Homo sapiens: one gene and its partner. The protein of the gene in region 1 interacts with the protein of each later gene in a pairwise test. Each region holds a gene or a part of one and is shown in the gene's direction. Other genes may lie near its edges.

Evidence for each region. The genes of interacting proteins can lie anywhere in the genome.
Region 2: the proteins of SUFU (region 1) and HDX interact in binary tests that used the Homo sapiens proteins (3 or more experiments, as listed by UniProt).

The regions. Positions count from the first base shown.
Region 1 is NC_000010.11:102,505,777-102,511,176, forward strand, and holds part of SUFU (suppressor of fused homolog), read left to right. Parts: intron 1-2,502; exon of another isoform or gene 2,503-3,130; intron 3,131-3,392; coding exon 3,393-3,527; intron 3,528-5,400. UniProt on the Homo sapiens protein: Negative regulator in the hedgehog/smoothened signaling pathway. Down-regulates GLI1-mediated transactivation of target genes. Down-regulates GLI2-mediated transactivation of target genes. Part of a corepressor complex that acts on DNA-bound GLI1.
Region 2 is NC_000023.11:84,491,194-84,496,593, reverse strand, and holds part of HDX (highly divergent homeobox), read left to right. Parts: intron 1-5,400.

The DNA.
Region 1 (5,400 bases):
TCTGGTTGAGAGGAGTTGTTGAAGAGCGCTTCTGAGTGGAAAGCAGCTCTTGCTAGCTTAATGACCCATTCTCATTGTGCCTTTATATTTAACTATGTGTTGTGATGAACTTGTTGTCATGTGTCAGGAGAAAAGTGGGCCTGGGCTGGGCACAGTGGCTCATGCATGTATTCCCACCACTTTGGGAGGCCTTGAGGATCCCTTGAGGCCAGGAGTTCGAGACCAGTGTGGGGAGCGTAGCCAGACCCTAACTCTGTTATTTGAAAAAAAAAAAAAAAAAAAAAAAAAAAGAAGTGGGCCTGGCTCTGCCACGCTGTTTGTTCAGGCCTCATTTGAGTGTGAGGAGAAATCCCTACACAGATTCAGGCAACTATTTTTATGTCACCCAAGTAGCCATAAAGGATAGAATTGTATGTAAAAGGTATGAAAGCATGTGCAAAGGACTAAGGGCAATTTTTTTTTCCTTCCTGCTGCAAGCTTGTTAACAGCCATATCTTCAGAGATGGGCCAACATGTGATAATGAAGAAAAGGGATTATACAGCACTTTGTGAAAGCCCTTCCTAGATGCAGAAAAGTATAAAGAGAAACAGCACAGTGACTGGTACTTTCTTTTTTTTTTGAGACAGAGTTTTGCTCTGTCACCCAGGCTGGAGTGCAGTGGCACGATCTTGGCTTACTGCAACCTCTGTCTCCCGGTTTCAAGCGATTCTCGTGCCTCAGCCTCCCAAGTAGCTGATATTACAGGCACACGCCACCTTGCCCAGCTAATTTTTGTATTTTTAGTAGAGGCAGAGTTTCACCATGTTGGCCAGGCTGGTCTCGAACTCCTGACCTCAAGTGATCAACCCACCTCGGCCTCCCAAAGTGCTAGGATTACAGGCGTGAGCCAGTGCGACCAGCCATCAGTGACTGGTACTTTCTAAGATGTGGAGGGGTTTGCAAAAATAAGATCCTGAAATTCATTTATATTCCTCACATTTGGGATCCCACGAGGTTTCTAGCAGGATGACTGACCCAGGCTGTCTGGGTCTGTCTGTGGCCCAGGGTAGCTTGGGATTCATTTTGCAATAGCAGTGTGGCTCTGTGACTGGTGATCCCTGAGTAGTGGGGACATTCTAACTGAAAGCTGAGACTTTGGTGAGCAAGGATCAAAGCAGAGAGGCAGAACCTGTACTCATGGCCCACTTCAGTCCTGCAACTGCCCTGCAGAGAGAAGTTGGGTGTTCAAGGAATTAAGTTGAGGGATGCCCTGGGACCTTGGATAACATCATTTGCTAAGTGTAAAATGCGATTTTTTTCCACATACTCATCTGGCCTCTGAGTAGTAAGTAAACAGAATACTCTGTGCTTGGGGACAGGGTTAATTTTATCTGACTCTTGGTAGTTCCTTGCAGTTGGAGTTTGAAGGTTAAGCTTCTCTCCTTGATGTGACACCTTGTGGGAGACTTGGTGAGAAAGAGGGCTGCAGGGATGCTGCAGATGGAGCAGAGAATGGTAAACACAGTTTTGCAGCTTGGTGCAGGATGGACCTAGGCTGTAGCGGGGCAGGTTTGGAAATTTGCAGCAGGAAACTGGAGCAGGTATGGGGCCTGTAGTGGCTCTCATCTGCTCTGGAGTTCTGTAGCTCTAATGGGGTCTTTCCAGGGATCTCTACTCTTTTCTTTCTTCCCTTGCCCCACAAACTTTTCTAAATCCAACCTGTTGTAGAATTAGTCAAGTGATTTGTTGAAATCAGTTAAGGCAGACATGGAGAGTTGTCCCTCTTCCTCTGTTGAGATGCTAAGCTATTTGTAGCAACTTTCTTAAAAGTTCTATAAATAACTTAGCATTTCCTAACAGAGAATAGGGATTTCTATCCACAAAGGCAAATAATATCCTGGTGAAAGAGGACGAAACAAGACCAACTGGTTTTAAATAGTGTTTAAATTGCCTGGTGCTGGCACCATTGACTGGGATCACTTGTAACATGTCTTTTATTTGGTTGTTAGCTTTCCACCAGCATGCTATCCCAGTTGCAAAGTGTACTCCATCGATGTCCCAGGGGCAGGTGAAGCTTTTGCAGTCTGTGGAATGGTCAGATGTTTGAGGCAGCTCAAATGCCGTGTTTGTGGGCTAAATGCAGACTTCCTTCCACTGATGGTTTCTATTTGGTCTATTTCTCTAGCTACCAAAATTTCTTATCCATTTTTTTTTTTTTTTTTTTTTTTAGACAAAGTCTCACTCTGTCACCCAGGCTGGAGTGCAGTGGCGCAATCTTGGCTCCCTGCAACCTCTGCCTCTGTTGTCCAGGCGATTCTCCTGCCTCAGCCTCTCAAATAGCAAATAGCTGGGATTACAGGCACCTGCCACCACACCTGGCTAATTTTTTGTATCTTTAGTAGAGATGGGGTTTCACCATGTTGGCCAGGCTGGTCTCAAACTCCTGACCTCAAGTAATCCACCCACTTCGGCCTCCCAAAGTGCAGAGATTACAGGTGTGAGCCACCGTGCCCGGCCAAAACAGGATTTTTTTTAAAAAGCACTGATTACTAAAGGGAACTCTTATTGTATTAAATCCTCAGAGTGAGATAATAACTGAATCTCTTCCGCAACTCCTTCTCAGTTGAATGGTGGGGGAAATTTAATGTGGTCCTGAGAGGCCCCAAATCATTTACCATCCCAGCTCTACCTTTGATGTGGCAGTCTCTCCTGGGATCATTTTCTGGGTGCAGATGCTCACAGGGCGCAGTTTGACTCCTTCTGCAGTTCTCTGTGCAGAACTAAGTTAAGCCTAAGTTTGGCCTTTGTCACTTGCAATGATAAGAGACCAGCTTTGGTCTATGGGGTGCAGGCTGGTGTCAGCACAGACTAGAGGCTTTGGGTTTGTTTAGAACAAACTGTAATTAACATAGGGCACAATATAGTCTTTCAGGAATTAGCTGTCTAAGAGGCTGGAGTGGAGCAGAGCCTCTGCTTCCAGGAACAATGCCCATTGGGGATGCTTGGGATGGTCTTTCAACAGAGGCCAATTGATTGACTGATGTACCTCTTGCCTTGAAGCTTGGCATGTATACAGGCACCACAGAAGAGAGACAATCCCTGCCAATCTCATTTGGGATCGGTAATTTGAAACAGGAGAAAGCAAAATGGGTAACCATCCAGTCTGTTTTATTTCTAAAAGAGGCCCAGTCTTTCAGGGGTAGGAGAAGGGAGCCTCTTGGGCTTGCAGAGTTGGGCAGCCTTAGCTGTCCATCCCTTAGTCTCATTCTGGAGAGATGTGGCCTCTGTTTAGTTACCTTTCACCCAGGTTCCTCCAGGATGGGTCCTTTAGGTTTACAAAGTAGAGCGCCTTAGCTTGACATTGTCTGATTTCCAGGCTTACACTAACACCCCTGTGTTTTGTTTTTTGCAGGTTGGGTGGCCCAGACCCCTTGGACTATGTTAGCATGTACAGGAATGTGGGGAGCCCTTCTGCTAACATCCCCGAGCACTGGCACTACATCAGCTTCGGCCTGAGTGATCTCTATGGTGACAACAGAGTCCATGAGTGAGTATATGCCACCTGTTCTTTATCCAGAGCCTTATTCCTGAGGTCTTCCTGAGCAGGGGTGACAATGTCATAGTGCTGTGAGCATGGTACTTCTCCGTGGAACCTCTGCATTTCTGCCCTCTGACTATATCTACTCATGCCAAGGTGGTCCTCGTTAACACCTGATTCCTGCTTATCTAGTGCAGGAAAGTCTTGATGAGCAGGATTCCCAAATCAGGTTTTTCTAAGCTTGCCCTGGAGTTTGGGCTCATAGGACAGGAAGGTAGCATGGTTATGACTCAGAACTTGGGCTGATGCCTCTGTGTCTACTTCCTTTTATTCCCCTAGCTTATTATGAAACATTTTAAACATAAAGCAAAGTTGGAAGGATTTTATAGTGAACACTCATATACCCACAACCCAGATTCTACTGTTAACTTTATACTTGCTTTATCACAAATCTGTTCATCTCTTATCCTTTATCTATCTTACCTACTTCCTTTTAACCTGTATTTATTTATTTTTTTATCTTAGTCTGCTTCCGTTTGTTGCCCTATATGCTTTTTTTTGGAGATAGGGTCTCACTCTGTCATCCAGGCTAGAGTGCAGTGGTATGATCATGGTTCACTGCAGCCTCGACCTCCCTAGGCTCAGGTGATCCTCCAACCTCAGCCTCCCGAGTAGCTGGGACGACAGGCAAGCACCACCATGCCCAGCTAATTTTTGTAATTTTTTTGTAGAGACAGGGTTTCACCATGTTGCCCAGGCTGGTCTCAAACTCCTGGGCTTAAGCAGTTCTTCCACCTCAGCTTCCCAAAGTGTCGGGATTATGGGTGTGAGCCACTGTGCCCAACTCAGAGTTCATACTGTTAATGACTGTATTCTCTTGCCTTTTGAGCAATTATATCATGTACTCCAATAAGCTACCAACTATTTTTTTTAGAAACAGAGTCTCGCTTTGTTGCCCAGGCTGGAGTGCAGTGGGGTGATCTTGGCTCACTGCAAGCTCCACCTGCCGGGTTCACGCCATTCTCCTGTCTCAGCCTCCTGAGTACCTGGGACTATAGGCACCCACCACCACGCCCAGCTAATTTTTGTATTTTTAGTAGAGACGGGGTTTCACCATGTTAGCCAGGATGGTCTTGATCTCCTGACCTCGTGATCTGCCTGCCTCGGCCTCCCAAAGTGCTGGGATTACAGGCGTGACGACTGTGCCCGGCCTGCTACCATCTATATTTTAAAAAGATTTTTTTTGGCTGGGCACAGTGGCTCATGCCTGTAATCCCAGCACTTTGTGGGGCTGAGGCAGGTGGCTCACTTGAGGTCAGGAGTTCGAGACCAGCCCGGCCAACATGGTGAAACCTTGTCTCTACTAAAAATACAAAAAATTAGCCAGGCATGGTAGCATGTGCCTGTACTCCCAACTACCCCGGAGGCTGAGGCACGAGAATCACTTGAACCTGGGAGGCAGAGGTTGCAGTGAGCTGAGATCGTGCCACTGTGCTCCAGCCTGGGCAACAGAGTGAAACTGTGTCTTAAAAAAATAATAATTAGGCTGGGTGTGGTGGCTCACGCCTATAATCCCAGCACTTTGGGAGGTCGAGGCAGGCGGATCACCTGAGGTTGGGAGTTTGAGACAAGCCTGACCAACATGGAGAAACCCTGTCTCTACTAAAAATAATAAAATTAGCCGGGCGTGGTGGCACATGCCTGTAATCCCAGCTACTAGGGAGGCTGAGGCAGGATAATTGCTTGAACCTGGGAGGAGTAGGTTGCAGTGAGCCAAGATTGTGCCATTGTACTCCAGCCTGGGCAACAAGAGTGAAACTCCATCTCAAAAAAAAAAAAAAAAGTAATAATAATAATAATAATAATGAAAATAAACAAAGTT
Region 2 (5,400 bases), on another chromosome or scaffold:
GCAGAGAGAAACATTTTGAATTCAGTATTGTTTGTGATATGGAGCCTCAGGTAGGGATTGTTGAATCCCTCCCTTGCTATTCAAAGTGTGTTCCATAGAGTGGTAGCATGAACACCACCTGGGAGATGCTTAGAAACTGCAAAATCTCCTGGCCCCACACTAGATATACTGAATCAGAATCCGCATTTTAACAAGACCTCCCAGTTACTTACTAATATGTATATTAATGTCTGAGAAGAACTGAAGTAAAGTGAAATCTTACTTCCTGTACAACAGAGACTTTTAAGAGCTGGTGGTCATAGAAACAAAAACTTGAATTTTCTTTTGTCTGTTTTCGCATTTGTAAAGAAATATGCGATCTAAGCATTCTCCATTATACATTGTATGACAAATACAGATCAGCTTTGTTCCATTCTGAAGTATGCATTGTATCATTAAGAGAAAAAAACTACACCAATGTCATAGGTAAAATCGCTAAGCCTCTGAGTATATCCACTCACATTGGTGACAGCAATGGCTTTACCATTGAAATGATATTTATCCTAATTACTTGACTTTTCAACAGAGTGTTACAGAAGAATATAGTTGTATTGGGTTCACTGTCACCAACATCCTCAAGGGGAATGGTATGTTGTCTCTTTGCTGCCATAATATATCACCACAAAATTATTGCCCTAGAACAACCCAAATTTATTATCTTATGGTTCCAGAAGGCACAAGTCTGAATGGGTCTTTTTGGGTTAAAATAAATATGTCAGCAGTACTTTCCTTTTTGGCACCTCTAGAGAAGGTTTTGTTTCCTTGGCTTTTCCAACTTTTAGAGGCTACCCCCAAAAACAAAAGCAAAATTTTTCCTACACTGACAAAATCTATCTTTGGATCTCTGTTTGAGATATTCTGCCTTAAGTATCTTTTGTTTTTGTTTTATTTTTTTCATTTGAAGAATAAAGGAGGAGTTTTACCTGTGGCTATCAGATTTGGGGTTCTACTCTATGAGACTTTTAAGTCATTATGCAATTTCTTTATTTTTATTTTTTTGACAAGAAGTCTGGAGCATGATTACATTATGCATTTTCTTACTCTTTAAAGTATTTGTGGGGATAATCCTTCATTATTTGATTGGCAAAAATATATATGTTTATAGTGTGTAACATGGTGATTGGATATATGTACACATTGTGGAACAGCTAAATCAAGCTAATAACAAATCAGTTACCTCACATACTTATTTTGTGGTGAAAACATGTAAAATCCACTCTCTTAGCAATTTTCAAGCATCCAATACATTGTTATTAACTGTAGTCACCATGTTATACAATAGATCTCTTGAACTTATTCTTCCTGTCTAACTAAAATTTTGTATTCCTTGATCAACATCTACCCAATCCCTCACTGTTCTCCAGCCTTGATAACTACCATTCTACTCTCTGCTTCTATGAATTTGACTTTTTTTTTTTTTAGATTCCACATATGTGAGATCGCGCAGTATTTGTCTTTCTGTGCCTGGCTTATTTCACTTAATATAAAGTCCTCGAGGTTCCCCTATGTAGTTGCAAATTACAAGATTATTTTTTCTTTGTCAATGCTGAATGGTATTCCATTTTGTATATATGCCACATTTTCTTTATCCATTCATCTGTTGATAGACACTTAGGTTGACTCCGTATCTTGGCTATTGTGAATAATACTGCAGTGAGTGAACATGGGAGTGCAGATATATCTTCAAGATACTGATTTTATTTCCTTTGGCTATATATTGAGAAGTGGGATTGCTGAATCATATGTGGTAGGAGTTCTATTTTTAATTTTTTAGAGACCTCTATACTGTTTTCCATAATGACTGTACTAATTTAAATCCCCACCAAAGTTGTACAAGAGTTTCCTTTTCTCAATGGGGATAAATTTATGCTTTCACATTTTCATTGTCTAAATACATGTGTGTTTGTATGTTGTTTCTACACTATATATGTGTATGTTTATATAATGTTACCTACTTACCACTTGATGGTGTACTTTGAGGGATATCCCCCTAACCTCTAATGTGTGACTAAATCTTTTTCCCCTTAATTTGTGCAGGTTGATGTAAAATCAGGAATGAGAGTTGTAAGATAATTAAATAGTCTATCTCTTTGTGTATGTACTTCCCTCATTAGTAAGTTAAAATACAACCTACATTTTAAAAGTATTAACAAGACTGTGATTTGCAAGATTGTGAAATGTTAGCTTTCAATGGTTGTGGCAGTACAAACACTCTCCAGTGAAACATAGAAGTGATTTACCTGCACATTTTTTAGGGCTAGAAATGTACAAAGAAACACAATTTATTGAAACAAAATTTACTCAACGAATATGAATGAATCAAGGTACTACTTAGCTCATTCGGAGACGCTGTATATCACTGGTCATTAGTGCCATATATCACTGTCATATATTTTGTATGGATGGATGCATGTGGGATTACATAAAAACAGAGCCAAAGGAAATAGTCATTCAGTTGAGTCCCTATTTATGTTTTTGTCATTCAGCTGTTTATCCATTTGAAATTGATCTTTTTACTTTTTTTTAGTATTTTTAATTTTTTTATTCTTAAATTTTGTGGGTACATAGTAGGTGTACACATTTATGGGGTACATGAGATATTTTGATATAAGCATGCAGTGCATAATAATCACATCATGGAAAATGGGCTATCCATTCCCTTAAGCGTTTATCCTTTGTGTTACAAACAATTCAGTTATACTTTTTTAGTTATTTTAAAATATATAATTAAATTATTTTGACTATAGTCACCCTGTTGTGCTATCAAATACTAGGTACTTATTCTTTCTGATATCTGATGGTATGATTAGGTATTTATAGTTTTAGGTGTATATTATTTGAACACATTACCATGTGAATAAAGCAAGTGTCATTAAAGGCTAATACATTTTTATCATTGATTAAACATTCTGAGATCCAGTATATTTACTTGCTAATGCATTTATTTGGTAGAAGCTTTCTTTAGAATTTAGTCATTAGGGATGTAGCTATAGACATATATGTCCCTTTATATTTTCATATATTTATGTGGAGTATGTGTACATAAAATTTTCTTGCAATTTGTGTTCATGTCACTATGAATATGTTTTATGTAGCTGGCAAAACTGAATATTAATTACATAATTTTAAGTGTGTTTTAAAGCGAGGTCAGTGAACAATTTCTTTGTGCCCTGAGAAAATCATATGATAAGTTTTTATTAAAATCTCCTTTTGTTTCTATTTTCACCTAAGCAATATAAGTTAGTTTTATCTCTAAAAAGACAGATAAGAGATGTGTACAATACATTTCAGTAAATTCTAGCTTAATAAACAGATAATATACTCTCATAGTATTAGAATAAACAGATGTCTGTCACTAGACTTTATGCTTTGAAGATGCTGGAATTTATTTTTTACAATATCTAAAAACTTGGTGAGATGATTTTAAAATAAAGTAAATAGAGAGGTGAATCCCCATCTCTACTAAAATACAAAAATTAGCCGGGCATGGTGGCCAGTGCCTGTAATCTTAGCTACTCGGAGGCTGAGGCAGGAGAATTGCTTGAATCCAGGAGGTGGAGGCTGCAGTGAGCCGAAATCGCGCCATTGCACTTCAGCCTGGGCAACAAGAGCGAAGCTCCATCTCAGAAAAAAAAAAAAAAAAGCTTTTTGTAATATTAAATTTGTACTAAAAAATTCTGGAGTGGCTTCCATGCATATGTGGACACGATGCTATTTGTTGGGCTTAACTTTCACATTCTTAAACATTTTGAAAGATTAAACTCTTATTGCATAGACAGGGATCTCAGGATCAGTCTTTTTTTTGCCATCATAATATCATAATGTACATATCCTTCATTTGAGGTTCATATATAAATTGTGTAGGAGTGGATTGATGTACTTTAAAAGAGTTATTCGCAGTACTGATGGCCAGTTGATGATATGTTAACTAGTAACAAAAATAGGCTTGGCGTAGCACATTACAGTTTATTAAGTATTTTAATGAAGATGACACATCATTTGAAGAAGAATAGGACAGGTTTTATAGTCCCATTTTCCAGATGAAGGAACTGAGGTTCCAGAGGTCAATTATCTCTGCTAAAGTCACAAGACTAGCAAGTAATGAAGCTTAAGAGCTTAATAGGATGGAGGTATCCAGACTCCTAAAGCATTCCCACTCCACCACTCCAAAAGGTCACCTGAATTTCTGCTTGTAGCAATGATGAAGTAACAGTAACAGGATTTCCTCTTTTACCTTAAATATCTAAACACAAACAAACAAACAAACAAAAACAGAAAAAAATAGAAAATAATGAATTTTAGACCTTTGACAAAAGGCAGCACAGGACCATGATTCTTGAGAGAAGGGAGACAAGATGAGCCTTATGAATGTCCCAACTTACTGCCTTGGGAAAGTTTCCAGACAATAGCTCAGGTGAAAGGAGCCCAAAAAGGCTAGGAGTCTCTCTGTGTTGAGAAGACATAGTTCAGAGTTCAGAAAGTACAAGGGTGCCTACAATTTGAGGAACAGTGTACTGGAGAGAACATTGCACAGTGAAGGAGAAAACTGCATATGGAGAGAGCTTCAGAAATCTGCTGAGGGACCCTTCAAGTTTCTGAATAATGATCAGCTCAAGTGTGTGATGAAACTGATGAGGACAGAGAAAGAACCACAATAAAGAAACAGGCAAATCAATCCTCAGAACTCACGGAGGACCAGGAATAGTTATGTTCCCACTAGCCAGATTGGAAAACATCATATTTCAAGAGGCATTTAAAAAAGTCCTCACAAGGGTATTGCCTGAGTAATGGAGCAAATTAGATCTAGAATAAAGGCAATTCTAGATTTGCCTGACAAAAGCAAACTTCAAAAGAACCAAACCAATTCCTAGTAACTTAAATATATCCCCAAACAAAGGCAAACATATTCAAATACTACAAAAACAGACAGTACCCAAAAACAAGATTTATAATATCTGATTTTAAACGAAGAATTACCAAGCATGCAAAGAAATAGGAAAATATACAACCCATATTCCTGTGAGAAAGCAATAAGAAAAACAGAATAAAAAAGGGTGTGAAATTAGTAGAGAAGAATTAAAAAACAGCTATTATTTCTGCAATCCATATGTTCAATAAGGTAGAAGAAAGCACAAGCAAGATTAGAACAAAATAGATTTTTTTAAAAGATCCACATTGATTGAAATTCTAGAGACAAAATATAGCATATGAAATGGCAAATGCACTGGATAGTTTTAACAGCAGATTAGCTACTGCAGAAGAAAAAATATAGTGAACTTTAATACATACAAATAAAAAGTATTCAAAATGAAAAGTAGAGAGAAAAATATGAGAAATAAATGAATGGAGCAACAATGAATT